2 linked regions of the Homo sapiens genome follow. The protein of the gene in region 2 purifies or fractionates together with the protein of the main gene of each other region. This does not show direct contact. Each region holds a gene or a part of one and is shown on either strand. Other genes may lie near its edges.

Region 1 (7,000 bases), on a different chromosome or scaffold from region 2:
AGATGTGGGAATGGGGGCCGAGCCAATTGTGATGTAAGTTTTGTTGGGGATGAAAGACAACTGGGGTGTTTTCCTTGAGGGAGAGAGGGGTAAAGATCCTTCTTAATCCCCAGAATTAGAAACATCAACCTGTTCTTTCAGCTGTAGTTATTCCAAAAAGTCACTTCAGGCCAAAGTGACATGAACAGAAGTTCCATGTGCCATGGAGCTCTCTGGCTTGGAACATTTCCGTGAATATCTGGGAGTTGGCTCCTCCTTAAGGAGAAGTGGAAAGTCCCTTGCTGAGTTGTTCTCCACACCCATGTGGTATAAAGCAGCTTTCCACCTTGCCTGGGGCTTTCCAAATTCCCCATCCAGCTCCTGCGGCTGACCCTGCTTGGCTCCATTTTTAGTGCCCTGTTTTTCTCTCCCACTGAGGTGGGATAGAGGGTGTAAAAGCAACAGATTTGAGTTAAACTTTAAAATAAATGACCACCTTGCATTAGCTTGCTTAGGAAAAGAGTACATAAAATAAAATGAACAAACAAAAACCCATCTTGTTCTTTATCCCCCTTATTTTCTGCTTTTCATTGATTCAGATTATTGGATTCTTATTGTCAAGAATAAACTTTAAACAAACAAACAAAAAAAGGTAAATGTGACGGAAGGCTAGTTTTCAGTCATTTTTAAAAATTGTGATGCCCCGTTCTTTTTCTTACATTTGTCCCCTGAACAATTCTTCCTCTTTAAAATGTAGCAGTCCTAGCTGGGCGTGCTGGCTCACACCCCGTACTTTGGGATGCCAAGGCAGGCTGGTCACTTGAGGTCAGGAGTTCAAGACCAGCCTGGCCAACATGGTGAAAGCCCGTCTCTACTAAAGATACAAAAATTAGCTGGGTGTGGTGGTGCACGCCTGTAGTCCCAGTTACTGGGGAGGCTGAGGCATGAGAATCGCTTGAACCTGAGAGGTGGAGCTTGCAGTGAGCCAAGATTTTGCCACTGCACTCTAGCCTGGGCAACAGAGTGAAACTCTGTCTCAAAAAAATAAATAAAATAAAATGTAGCAGTCCTTTTTAAAAATGTGGAATTTTACTTGACAGTAGAGTGAAGTAGCCTGTATGCAATGATATGGGAAAATGTACATGACATATTAAGAAAAAGCAAAATGTAAAATAATTTGAATAGTATTATTAGTATATGTGTTTTAAAAATACACTATACTCTTATGTGTATTCATATGTATATTAAGAAATTCTGGAGGAATATACCAGCAGTGCTATGTGTATTAGTGCTGCTGTTGGTATCCATGGCTATTCTAGACTGTCTCTGTGATATTTGCATTTTAAACTGAATATATTACTTTTATAATCAGAAAAATAGTATTAAAAATGAATTATAATTTAATTTCTTTTTTCTTTTTTTTTTTTGAGTCGGAGTCTCGTTCTATCGGATTGCAGTGGTGCGATCTCAGCTCACTGCAACCTCTGCCTCCTAGGTTCAAGCGATTCTCCTGTCTCAGCCTCCCAAGTAGCTGGGACGATAGGTGCATGCCACCACGCCTGGCTAATTTTTGCATTTTTAGTAGAGACAGGGTTTCACCATATTGGTCAGGCTGGTCTTGAACTCCTGACCTCGTGATCCACCCATCTCGGCCTCCGAAAGTGCTGGGATTACAGGCATGAGCCGCTGTGCCCAGACTAGAATTCAATTTTTGAGAATTCATTGACAACTCTTACTTAAAATAAGGTTGCTGTACTGATGTGAGACATTGTTGTAGTCAGTTTGGAAAACAATTTGGCAGTATAAAAATGAACATACCTGTAAACCAACGGTGCCATTCCCAGGATTTAATAGCAGAGAAATCTTTGCATATATGTCCCAGGAGACATATATAAAGTGGACATCAGCCTGATTATAAGCTCTAAATGCAACCCAAATAAATACCCATCAACATTAGAATGAATACATTATTTGTGGTATAGACACAATGGAATACTCCGCAGCTGTGAAAAGGAATACACTGCAGATACACATAACCATGTGGATTCATTTCACATCAAGTGAAAAGTGAATCCCAAAAGAATTCATTGGAGTCCATAAGTGTAAGGTTCACAAATGTCCCAAACTAAACAATACCTGCATTGCTTAGATAAACAAATATGGTAAAACTGTAAAAAAACAAAACAAAACAAGACAAAAAGGGCTAGGAAATGATAAACCCAAAAGACAAAATAGCAGTTATTTCTGAGGGAGGAGGGAAGGGGATGGGGTTGGGGAAGGGCACCCAGAGAATTTTAGGAGTGATGGACTTTTCCTTAAATTGAATGGTGGGTTCATATTGTTTTGTTATTCTTTGTGCCTTACGTATTTTACAAATAACCAATTGGATCTATGTAATATTATAATACAAACTGAGTAAAGGATTAGGTTGAGGATCACAGCATTGGAAGTTCTTGGTGTTGAAGAGAGTAAGTGCCGAGCAAGTTGTGTCCCTGGCAGTTTGTTTGTGACCACCTGGTGGCTTACCCTTCTTGGTGTGGTGAGGCTTGGCATGTCACTTTCCTTGGCTGTGGCTGTTAGTACTGAATGCCATTCTCTCTGAGGAAAAGTGTCCTTCTCTTTTTTATTGATTGACTGATTGATTGAGACAGAGTCTCACTCTGTCACCCAGGCTGGAGTGCAGTGGCGTGATCTCGGCTCACTGCATCCTCTGCCTCCTGGGTTCAAGCGATTCTCCTGCCTCAGCCTCCTGAGTAGCTGGGACTACAGGCGCCCACTACCACACCCAGCTAATTTTTGTATTCTTAGTAGAAACGGGGTTTCACCAAATTATTGGCCAGGCTGGTCTCGAACTCCTGACCATGTGATCCACCTGCCTCGGCCTCCCAAAATGCTGGGATTGTAGGTGTGAGCCATCACGCTCAGCCTTTTTTTTTATTTAATTTAATTTTTTTTTAAGACAGGGTCTCACTCTGTCACCCCAGCTAGAGTGCAGTGGCACAATCATAGCTCGCTGCAGCCTCCATCTCCTAGGCTCAAGCCATCCTCCCACCTCAGCCTCTCGAGTAGCTGGGGCTATAGGTGTGCACCACCACACCCAGCTAATTTTTGTATTTTTTGCAGAGATGGAGTTTTGCTGTGCTGCTTAGACTGGTCTCGAACTCCTGGGCTCAGGCAATCCTCCTGCCTTGGCCTCCCAAAGTGCTGGGATTACAGGCATGAGCCACCACACCTGGCCTAAGAGTGTCCTTCTCGTTACTGTAGGCTTCCCTGATTGTGACTGAGGAGCTGCACCTGATCACCTTTGAGACCGAGGTGTATCACCAAGGCCTCAAGATTGACCTAGAGGTAAGTTCTGCAGCAGAATCGGTGAGAGGCTACGTACAGGGGTGACTCAGGACAAAAACTTCCACTGGGATTTTTACAAGAGAAGGTGGAATGATTACTGTTTGCTTAACACTGTGTTTATTTTTGCTTACTTTTCTCCAAAAAAATCCTTGGCATCCCATCTGGCAATAAAGTCTTGCTTGAATGCTTAGAAGATGTGTGTATATTCAGCTTTCAGCAAACTTGATATGAAAATCTCTATTTAGAAATTGATTGGCCGGGCGCGGTGGCTCACGCCTGTAATCCCAGCACTTTGGGAGGCTGAGGCGGGTGGATCACGAGGTCAGGAGTTCGAGACCAGCCTGGCCAACATGACGAAACCCCGTCTCTACTAAAATACAAAAATTAGCTGGGTATGGTGGCGGACGCCTATAATCCCAGCTACTCGGGAGGCTGAGGCAGGAGAATCACTTGAACCTGGGAGGCAGAGGTTGCAGTGAGCTGAGATTGTGCCATTGCACTCCAGCCTGGGTGACAGAGTGAGACTCCGTCTCAAAAAAAAAAAAAAGAAATTAGAACTGACTTTATAAAGTTTGGGCATAAGAGTCTTAGCAGCCAGTGTGTTTAGTATACAGAAAATTGTGGCAATGACATTCTCCTTTCCCAACTTTCTTGATTTTTAAATTAAGATATACCTAGAAAAGCAGGAATCCTGGTCTTTGATTCCTGAGACCTCCCTGTTTCATGTGAAGATACAGCTTCAAGTCTTGGAGAATGCCTCCAAGGTCTTAAAAATGGGGAATCTGTGGATTGTGAGTCAAGCTTTGAGCAAGTCAGGTTTTACAAGGGACCGGTATATTCCGACTGCAGCCTGAGTTGTGTGGCCACGCTGGGCATTCTTTCCACTATGAGTGCTCACTGAGCTGACTCACTCACACTCCTCGCCTAGAGTTGGCAGCAGGTGTGGTTTATGGCATGTCCTTTCATTCTGAGCCCCGTGAGATGCGGGTGAAGAGATTTCCAAGGCTGTGAGAGCCCCTCTGCCTCCCCAGCTCAGTCCCCACTCCCTCCGCAGACCCACTCCTTGCCAGTTGTGGTGATCTCCAACATCTGTCAGATGCCAAATGCCTGGGCGTCCATCCTGTGGTACAACATGCTGACCAACAATCCCAAGGTTAGTGCCCCCTCCTTTTAGTTGGTGCCCCGGGATCTCTTGCGACTTAGGGGTACCTAGTATAGACAATGAGCACCATCCCTCATCTAAACAAGCAAATGTGTTCTTTCCAATAGAATGTAAACTTTTTTACCAAGCCCCCAATTGGAACCTGGGATCAAGTGGCCGAGGTCCTGAGCTGGCAGTTCTCCTCCACCACCAAGCGAGGACTGAGCATCGAGCAGCTGACTACACTGGCAGAGAAACTCTTGGGTCCGCATTTCACCCCTTCTCCCTCCCGCCCACCCGCCCAGAAAAGGGATCCGGCCCATAGGGCTGTTCATTTGGGCCATGTCTACTGAGCATTAGGCCATGTTTCTTTCCTGAGCAAGGCGCTGTGCTGGTGCCAGGAAACAGGGGAGTTGGGGAGTTGGGGTGCAGAGACAGTTTGCAGTTTTCAGTCGAGGTGATCATTTTTGAGGTGGGAGGTAGATTTCTTTTCTCCTGGTTGCTGTCTCATTCACCCACTCTATCTAACTTTAGAAGATCTTTTAAGTGTGTGTTGGAAGGTGGCACTAAAGGCTTGACATTCCCTGTCCATTTTTTTAATAAACTATAGGCTAGTTGGTTTTTTTTGTCTTATTTTATTTATTTATTTATTTTTTTGAGACGAGTCTTGCTCTGTTGCCCAGGCTGGAGTGCAGTAGTGTGATCTCGGCTCACTGCAACCTCCGCCTTCTGGGTTCAAGCGATTCTTCTGCCTCGGCCTCCCGAGTAGCTGAGACTACAGGTGCTCACCACCACGCCCAGCTAATTTTTGTATTTTTAGTAGAGACGGGGTTTTACCATGTTGGCCAGGATAGTCTCCGTCTCTTCACCTCGTGATCCGCCCACCTCGGCCTCCTAAAGTGCTGGGATTACAGGCTTGAGCCACTGTGCCCAGCGTAGGCTAGTTTTTAAAAAAGAATTAGTGGAATATTTTATGTGCCACCTGGGCTAGAAGTAGCTTTGTTCTAATAAAGCTGTTGCCACCAAATACACCTGTCTGACACCCGATGTCAGCTTGTTAGTGAGTGCTGCTGTTGGTTCCCAGCCTACCACCCGAGGTTGGGAAGAGCAGGGGGACTTGTTATATCACCCTCCATCCCTGCTGGGCTACCCAGCAACACAAGTGAGTCAAATGATGGGATAGTGTTTGTCCTCATGTGCACACACACAACAGTGCCTACCTTCAAAGATGTGAAAGCTGATTATTTTGTGGCCCATTGTGGGATGAATGTGTGTGTGTTCTGTTTTAAGAAATAACCTCTTGACCCCAAGCTGAAAATGTACTACTTGACTCTTTTTCTTTCCTTCAGGACCTGGTGTGAATTATTCAGGGTGTCAGATCACATGGGCTAAATTTTGCAAAGTAAGCAATCTTGTTAAATTCTCGTGGGAATGGGAATGCTCACCTGCACGGCTGTCGTTGAGGGCTCTGGCTTGAAGGCCCTGAACTCTTGGTCCAGCGGCCAGTAGGACCTGCCTGAAGGTAGACGGGCCTGAGGATTTGGGTGATGCACTGCACCCCTAGGAAGGGAAGGGCTGGGATGGCAGTAGACTTGGCTTTCCCATTACTCTTTTCTCCAGGAAAACATGGCTGGCAAGGGCTTCTCCTTCTGGGTCTGGCTGGACAATATCATTGACCTTGTGAAAAAGTACATCCTGGCCCTTTGGAACGAAGGGTAGGTTGGACAGAGTGTGCACAGATGTAACCAAGTCCCCTGCTCTCAGCAAGCCAGTGGCAGGGGATGGATGCCCTGTTAGCAATAACAACATTGTTCCTCCTCCTTGGCTCCAGGTACATCATGGGCTTTATCAGTAAGGAGCGGGAGCGGGCCATCTTGAGCACTAAGCCTCCAGGCACCTTCCTGCTAAGATTCAGTGAAAGCAGCAAAGAAGGAGGCGTCACTTTCACTTGGGTGGAGAAGGACATCAGCGGTAAGGGAGGCTCCCACCCACCCCACCTGCTGGTGGCTGCTGAGGCCTCATCACTGCTTCTAGTTGCAAGCACCTACTGCCCCCTGGTGGGTGGAGATGGCCTTGACTCCCTGTTTCACTCAGACTCGCAAAACACATTTGCGTGACTTCTAAATCCTTCCAGCTGAAGGATTGGTTTGCTTTGTTTTGCTTGCTCCAGTGACTATTTGTTGAGAATTTTGCAATTTAAATTGTATTCTTCATCTCTTTTTCTACTTAACCCTGTTAATATATCTTACGCAAGTAGTTATATTCAAGTTTATTTTCTATGACCCAACTAGTAGCCTCTTCTTAATTAGAAGCCAGCCTGAATATTTCCACAGTGCCAGGCCACTGAACAGGGTGTTCAGGGTCTCAACACTAGGGTGGCTTAAGTCTTTTCCCCTTCGAGGAAAGAAAAAATGGGCAGTTTTCTCTGAGATGACCTAGCTGTAGGTTCCATGATCTTTCCTTCCCATGTCCTGTGACAGGTAAGACCCAGATCCAGTCCGTGGAACCATACACAAAGCAGCAGCTGAACAA
Region 2 (7,955 bases):
CCTCTGACCTACTGAACCAGACTCTCTGGGATGGGGCCTGGCAATCTATTTAGCCAGTCCTCAGGGATTCTGATGCTTGCCAAAGCTTGAGAAGAACTGGGCTAGACCTCTGAAGAGGTTGCTGTGTGAACCCAGGAGCACCCCACGTGAGGCCTGTGGAAGAAAGTGGAGGAGGAGAATAAGACCTTCGGCCCACTGTGTGACCTCGGGCCACGTCCTCACCCTCTCTGGGCCTAGAATCTGTCATATTTCTTGGCATGGGATTAGAGGAGGCTGGGAAGATTCTCTGAAATTTATGGCCACCTCTCCTCCTCTATGCCAGCACCCGGCTCCTGTGAGTGGTGCTTTTAGGAGCTCATGTGTTTGCAGCCACCTCATCCTGGCCTTGGCTCGTTGCTGTTTTTAGTACCTTGGAGATGACACTTTGTGACCTCACAGACCATAACCAAAGCCCAAAGTGATAAACACTGGATCATCAAGAAAAGGGTACATCAGGTTTAACCTTTAAGCAGTTAAAACAGAGGAAAAAGTTGCATGGCTCAAAGGCACAAGACCTCGGGTTCCCAGCAGCCTGGTGCTGCAGAAAGCTGCGGTTTCATGGTCCACAGCTCAGCACAGCATCAGGTTGTGGAGACACTTCTGATCCTGCCCTGCCTGGTCCATCCCCCCAACTCCCTTGGGGCCTCTGGGAGCCTCCAGTCCCTTCAGTCACAGTAGTCACTGACGGGACTCTGAACCAGGAGCCTTTCGTGTGGTGGCTGCGGGGTATATGGGGTCTCACCAGCACCTGCTTCCCCTGCCTTGGTAACGCTAAGTGCTGCCATGAGGGGGTGCCTTGTGCCTCCATCAAGAACAGAAAACCCGCAGAGTAAGTCCTCATTCTCTGGCCACGAATGAGGACTTGGAGCCTGAGGACTTGGATGGGCATGCCCACTGTGTCTGCTGTGTGACCACCAGCAAGTCATAGAGTCCCTGCAGGCTTCATCTCTCTTCTGTAAAAGGGGGGCAGAGATAGGCCTCCCCTCGTCAGATGGCTATGGGCAGGGGATAAGTAAAGAACCTGGCCCCAGGCCTGGTCCTGCAAGCCCTTGATATTCCCACTCAAGAGACCAGCTACTCCCCACCACTGGGCCATTCATAACATCCTCCTGCCCCTCCAGGAGGTGGCCTAGAGCTGGTGTGGCCTGAGTCCATTTGCCCTAGGGAGAAAGGGAGGGGAGTCAGGGGAAGAACTGGGGAACCCAGGGTTCTGCCCTAGAAGGCAGGGCCCAGAAGGGGCTCGTGAGGGAACTCCCAGACTCTCAGGGGCCCATGTGGGTGCTGGGCAGAAGCAGGGAGTGAGGACAGCCACATCTCTGCACTGAGACCTGGCCTGAAAATCAGAAGACCTCGGTTCAATTACTGGCTCCATAGCTGTGCTGTGTGACTTTAGGCAGTTGCTTAACCTCTCTGAGCCTGGTCAGTAATTGAGAATAAAGGTCTCTGAGTTTCCTGGTCAGTCATTGAGAATAAAGACACCTAACTGGAAGGCTGTCTATGGCTGTCTTTACTCTCATTTGCCACATGAGATGAAGGACTGACCCACAGTGAGGGTTCAGCAAACAGCAGTGGAGACTAAATTGTCAGTCTAGGGTGCCATGGTCCTTTCCACTCTGGCTCTACAGTTAGATCAGGACAGCAAGGCTCAGAGAGTTTTAGCAGCTTGTCCAAGGTCACACAGGATGTGCACATCATCACCTTTCTGGGCCACTTGCTCCTGCGTAGGACCCTCAGGTTTCAATCTGGCCTGAGGTGAAATCCTCCCAGGGAGCTTTGAGCCTGACTTGGTGCCCGAGTGGGTTTTTTCATTACAGAATGGTAGTCCCGAGGACACAGGAAGAGATGCATCTCTTATATTTTCACTGACAATGCATGAAGGAATGGAAGCATTTCCACAAAAATATCAACACCATGAAGACTGAGCTGTCTGCTGATGGGCTGCCCAGGAGAACTCCCCATTTCTGGAGGTGTGCCAGCAGAAGCTAAGTGACACTGGATGGGAAGTTGGACTTGGTGGCCTTTAAAAGACCCTCCACATGGCTGCAAGGCAAGCCTGAGTCTGCTCAGTTTCCACCCACTCCTCCTCCTGCAGACTCAAGCTCTGCCTCCTAGACTTGGCCTTCAAGGCCTCTGGACTCAATCATCCTCTGTGCTCTCATCTGTCTCTCATCTGGCCTGGGAGCTCCAAAAAAGTAGGCATTGGGCATTTTTATTCAGCAACTGTCCTGGGCCCACCAGAGGAGAGAGGTCATGTTTACTGAGCAAAGGCCCCCGCGACCAGGAACTTCACACGTGTCATTACAGGCCATCCTCATACACCCGGTACTGTAATTAGTTTCACTTTGCAGGTCAGCAAACCAAGGTCAGGAAGGCTGAGCAACCTGCCAAAAGTCACACAACAACATGACTGCCAAAGAAGTGAAGAGATGAAGGAAGGGGCGCTGAGCCTGTGGGCTTCCCGGCTTTTAGCCCCTGGTCCCCAGAGGCATCTGCAGCAGGTGGGCACGCTTGGTTGCCCATCTGCCTCAAATGTGGGGGAGCCCCATCCGGGCACTGAGTAAGGTGGAACCCCACGAGCTGACTAACCACAACCACAGCCTCTGGGGGCGGGGGAGTGGGAGGTGGGGCACTCACCCCCAGCCCACCATAGCCCCAGCCCCGCCCTCCTGGGCCCTAGCAGAAGCTCTGCCATGGCCCAGTGATTTCTGCTTGGTAGCAGCTCCGGGAAGGGTGAGGCAGTGCTCAGCGAGCCTGGGTCTGGATGGCTGGGAGCTGGTCTGATACACAAGGCCAGGAACTGCCCGAATGATCCAGTCACTCTGCTCATACTGCAGGGCAGCTTCAAAGCACTTTCCTGAACATTTGGCCCCTTGGACAGGGACCTGGAAAAGGAAGCCCACAGGATATAGGAGTATCCACCAACTGCCACAATAAAGGCAGTGAGAAGTTGCCTAACAACCACTGGGTGCAGGCTCCAGCTGGATCCATTGCACTTAGTTCTAGCACCAACTCCAAGTAGTAGCTACTATCTTTCCCACTTTACAGATAGGGGCACTGAGGTTCCATTTGACCAAATGGAGCACTAGAGACCAGAGAGGGGGCTGGATGGACCAGCTAGGACCCTGTGGACATAGATCTGAGGCCTTGGGTGGCTGGGAGGGAAGGGAAAGAGGTTTGGATACCCTTCGCAGGCCCTGCTGAGAGATTCCTTACCTGCACCTCCTGCCCATCCCCTCACTGCAGCTCAGGCCTCCTCCTTAGGGAAGCCTTCCCTGATTTCCTCTTCTAAGACTAGGTCAGGCCCCTATGGCACCTGCTATCATGGCTTGTCCTCTCTGGGTTGACCCCATCTCCCCAGATCCATCTCCACAGTGGACTGAACAGGGGTAAGAAAAGGCAGTAACTGTAGAGACTTCAGGGAATCCCGCTTCTGAGCCCAGCCTTACCCTGATTTGCCACAAGGCCCTGGGTGGTCACTTTCATGCATGTAAAATGGGGCACCCTGCCCCACTCTCAGGGCTGGTGACGATCAGGGAAGAGAAACACTGTGGAAGAGGCCCCTTCTACACTTGGAACCAGGACCTGGAGGACAGCCAGGGCCCCTCTCTTCTAGGGACCCGCATACTAGAGTCCACAGGCAGCAAGGCAGGGTACCTGTGATTTGGTAGGGTCAAGGCATCTAGAAGAGAGGTGGCTTTGGGAAAGATCTGCTTCAACCTCCAATCTAAATGACAATACCGCCACCCCATATTTGCACAGTACTTTAAAAATTCGGGCAAGATAATGCCCAAACTGAATCAGACTTAGCTTTATGAACAGATTGGGCTCAAATCACTGATTCTTATTAGCTGTGTTGACTTTGGACACGCCATTTAACCTTTTCTGAGCCTCAGGTTCCCCAGCTATAAATAGGGACCTTACTAGTCTCAGACAATTGGTTTTCATGTGTACACACTGCCCCCACCCCTAGCCTCAGCTTCTCCATCCGAAAACAGGACTTTGATGGTGCCGTTTCACAGGCTGTTGAAGGGTCCCGCAGATGATGGAGGAGTACGGGTCCAGACACTAGAGCACAATCCGGAGAGGAAAAGTGACCTGCCAGGACCCACCAGAGTGGACGGCTTGGTGCGGGGAACCCCCTCCGCGGCCGCCCCAGGGCCAGCGAAGGGTCATTTCCTTCCGCATTCAGCCCCGCCGTCACCTCGCCTGTTTGCCCCCGCGTTAAGTGCGGCGGCGCCAGCAGCTGGGAAATCGGGGCCAGGCCGGATTTCCTCTGTGGACCTGCGGCTCCTAGAGCCACCGCGCCCCCCTCCGGACCCCGCGGGGCCGCGAACTGCACGTGCGGCGGCCGCTGGGATGGGCCTCGCTCCCACGGCGCTTCCTCTGCAACCCCTCTCCCTCCCGCCCTCTCATCCCCCCACACTGGGCCCCCGCCCCTTCCCGGCCGAGGTCCCAGGGTGGTGAAGATGCTTCGCCGCCCCACCCCACTCCGCCCCCGCCGGCTCCGGATAAACCGAGGCACGGGGCCAGGCGCTAGGACCCCACGGCCTCGCCAGAGGGGGGCGTGGCGGGGCGGGCCGGCGGGAGAGGTATTTAAATTGCAGCCGGAGCGCGGGGGCTCCGGTGGGGCAGCTGAGCGGCCTGCTCCTCCTCGGGCCGTGACCCCGGGGTCTGGCGCGGGGTGGGACCCGGGGGCGGGTTTGCGCAAAATGTGCCGAGACTGCCCGGGAGAGGAGCTGCGGCCGCGCTGAGCCAGGTAGGAGCCGCCGGGCAGGCGAGGCTGGCCGGCCCTCGGGGGGCGCACTGTCGCGCGCCTCTAGCGAGCGCAAGGCGGGGGCTGGTCCCAAGGGACGCCCCCCAAACACTCCCCTCCCGCCATCCCCACTGCGCGCGTGGAGCCGGGGCTGACCCTCCCTCGGTCCCTGGGAGTTCCCCAGCGCTCCTGTCTTGGCGGATCTTTCCCGCAAAGGGGTGAGGCCGGCCTTCCCATTTGACAGCTGGGAAAACAATGGCCTGAAGACCGTGACTTGCCCAGGAACACACAGCTAGGCAAGGGCAAACCGGAATTTGAATTCAGGTTTCCTGCAACGCTCCGATCCCAGCCAGGCGTGGGGCTGCCCATCCCACAGCACTAGATGGCCTGCCCATTTCTCGTAGTGGGGTAGGGGGCACCCACCGCTCTCCAAGGGGCTCTGAACCCAGCCTTCTTCATGGGTGGTAAGATGTGAGGGGCCCCCACCCCCACGCCGAGCTGCCTGAAATTCCGCCATCACAGCCACATTCCTTTGGGTTAAGGTCTAATTCCCCCGTGGGATGCACATGTCTCCAGAACGAGGCTTGCCCTTAGTGATTCACTGCTTGACAGGAACGTCCGCAGCAGCTCTCCCAGGACCCCACTCTGCCAGTAAGTCAGCTGAGGCCGAGAGGAGGGAGAGAGGACCTCAGAGGCCAGACTGTGAGCTAGTCTGCCCTGCTCCTGCGTGTGAGGGGTCGTTGGCAGGGCTTAGGGAAGGAGACCTTGATTTGGTATAGTGGGAACATTTGCTTTGGAGACAGATGAACTGGATTCTGATCGTGACCCTGCTATTTTCTCCTTGTGTGACTTTGGGTAAGTCACTTCTCTGAGCCTCCTTTTCTTCATGGGCAAAAAAAAGACAGTTCTATTGGGGGCAGTCGGCTCAGCATGTGCTGGAGAAAACACAGTATTCAGGTCATGTAGAACTGGATAAATCCCAGCTCCAAAGCCCTTATGAGCTGGGTAACTCTGGGGGTAAGTCACTTCACTTTCCGGAAACTGTTTTCTCATCCGTAAAATGGGAATTACAGTAATTTCCTCAATAGGTGATTGTGAGAATTAAATGAGATGATATAGGTCAAGTGCTTAGAAGACTAACATCCTTAAATGTAGGGGTGGGCTTATTGTGGTAGTAGTCATTGCCCCCCGTACCCCTGCTCTTTCTCTCTCACTCTCTCTCTCTCTCTCACACACACACACACACACACACACACACACACACACACACATTCTTTGGCACTTTTCTGAGTTGGACTCCTGAGAGTCCGACTCTCCTGCCTCCTCTTGCCCAGGCCACTTGTCTGCAGGCTTGGGGCCTCCCCACTGAGCACACCTCACCTGGGATGCTCAGCCCTGCGAGGGTCACTGTGTCAGCTGGGAAGGACAGTGAGGATGCAGGGCACCTTCGCCACCATTCTTTGCCTGATCATCACAATAGTTGGGGTTGGCCAGTGGCAGAACTGGAACCCAGCTGCCTACCCTGCAGACAGGACACTGGGGCACCAAGAAAGGAAGGGACTTACCTTAGGGAGCAGAGCTGGTGAGTGGTGGGCTTTGGATGCAAGCCTGGGTCTAAGTGACACCGTCCTCCTTTTTGAGAGAGAGTAGTCTTTAAATGCTACACCCTGTACTTGGGCACCACTGAGGAGGGCCCACAGCTGAGGGGCCCTTCCCGTCAGATGCCAGGACAGAGTGCCCATGTGCTGCAGGGACGATCCCTTCTGGATGTGCACAGGGCCACCTTGGGGATAGAGTGGGGTTTGGCAGAGGAAGGGGAAATAAGGGCCTAGGACCCTTCCTTGTCCTCACCTGGCACTCACCACTCAGTCCACTGCAGCTGAGCTTCTGCCCTGATTTTGCCACTTGTTCACTAGTCTTTAGTGAGTACCTACTTAGTAGGCCCCTGTTCCCACATGATAAGAAATAAATGATGAGGAAATGATAAATGTGGGAAAACAATGACATGTGTGAGGAGCTGAGGAAGAGCATTCAGGGAGAGGAAACTGCAGGAGCAAAGGCCCTGTGGCAGGAATGAATTTGCTGTGTTGAAGGAACAGCAGGAAAGCTGGAATGTGGTGAGGGAAGGGAAAATGGGCAAGAGTCAGAGAGGAGACTGTGGATAGCCTGGATTTTCTTGGAGATTTTCAAACAGAAGAGGTTTAGGATCTGACAGATGATTTTATATTATCACTCTGGCTGCTAGGTACAGGACAGATTATAAGAGGTCAGGGTGCTGTGGTCAAGGCCAGGATTGGGGTGGCGTCTCGGTCTGTGGCAGTGATAAGAGGGAAGTAGGAAGATCCGGGGTCTCTTTCAGGGAGAGCAGTCAGAGCCCACTGACGGCATGGATGGGTGAAGGGAACGTTGCAGAGAGGTGAAGGGAGAGCCAAGGAGAACTGCTCTCAGTAACGACCCCATGTCACCGAGACTCCTAGTGTCGGTTTTCTGTCCGCTGCTGACCTGTTGTGTGCTGTGAGATGCATCTTAAAGGATGGTGAGCCCCTCTCTAGGGGCACTTCCCATGGGAGGGGGTGGGGCCCAGTAGCCACGGAGGGCTTGGTGCTGTGCTCACTGGAAGCTCAGGGGCTCTGGGAGGACTGGAGGACATAGTCCAGACTTGGGGAACCAAAGAAGGCCTCTTGGCCCATCTAAGCTGGGACCCCAAGGATGAGGAGGTCTTTAGCAGAAGAGGAGAGGGGAGAAAGTGAAGGTTTGGGGCAGTGAAAATCTGCTCAGGGAACTGAAGGAAATATGAGGTGTCCAGAACCCAGAATGTGAGAGGGGACACCGGGGAAGCAGGCTGGAGAGCAGAGCTGGCCAGGCAGGGCATGCTCCCCAGTGGCCTGGAAGGCCCTGCCGGAGGGGTTTTCACTCAGTTCTGAATATGCTAACTTTCTAACGGGCGGTGGCGTTCTGCTTTTTAAACAGCAGAACAAAGTTTCCTGTGAAAGCACAACCTGTAATGCAGGTGAGAGCAGAGCAGCTGCAGGGGCAGCGCCTGTGGCCCTGAGGGGAGCCAGGGAATAGGGTTTACCGGGTCCGGCTGTGGTCTGTGCGCCTTCAAGAGAGATGGGATTCAGAGCAGCCATCTTCGTCCATAGCTCATCACTAGCGGGTTCCA

The links.
Region 1: the proteins of LRRC32 (region 2) and STAT3 purify together in Homo sapiens (co-immunoprecipitation; 3 studies listed by BioGRID and IntAct, with this or other methods). This does not show direct contact.

Annotation. Positions count from the first base shown.
Region 1 is NC_000017.11:42,322,443-42,329,442, reverse strand, and holds part of STAT3 (signal transducer and activator of transcription 3), read left to right. Parts: coding exon 1-33; intron 34-3,243; coding exon 3,244-3,327; intron 3,328-4,381; coding exon 4,382-4,480; intron 4,481-4,596; coding exon 4,597-4,732; intron 4,733-5,817; coding exon 5,818-5,870; intron 5,871-6,088; coding exon 6,089-6,183; intron 6,184-6,299; coding exon 6,300-6,439; intron 6,440-6,948; coding exon 6,949-7,000. UniProt on the Homo sapiens protein: Signal transducer and transcription activator that mediates cellular responses to interleukins, KITLG/SCF, LEP and other growth factors. Once activated, recruits coactivators, such as NCOA1 or MED1, to the promoter region of the target gene.
Region 2 is NC_000011.10:76,667,454-76,675,408, reverse strand, and holds the start of LRRC32 (transforming growth factor beta activator LRRC32 isoform a precursor), read left to right. Parts: upstream 1-4,661; 5' UTR 4,662-4,795; exon of another isoform or gene 4,796-5,647; intron 5,648-7,955.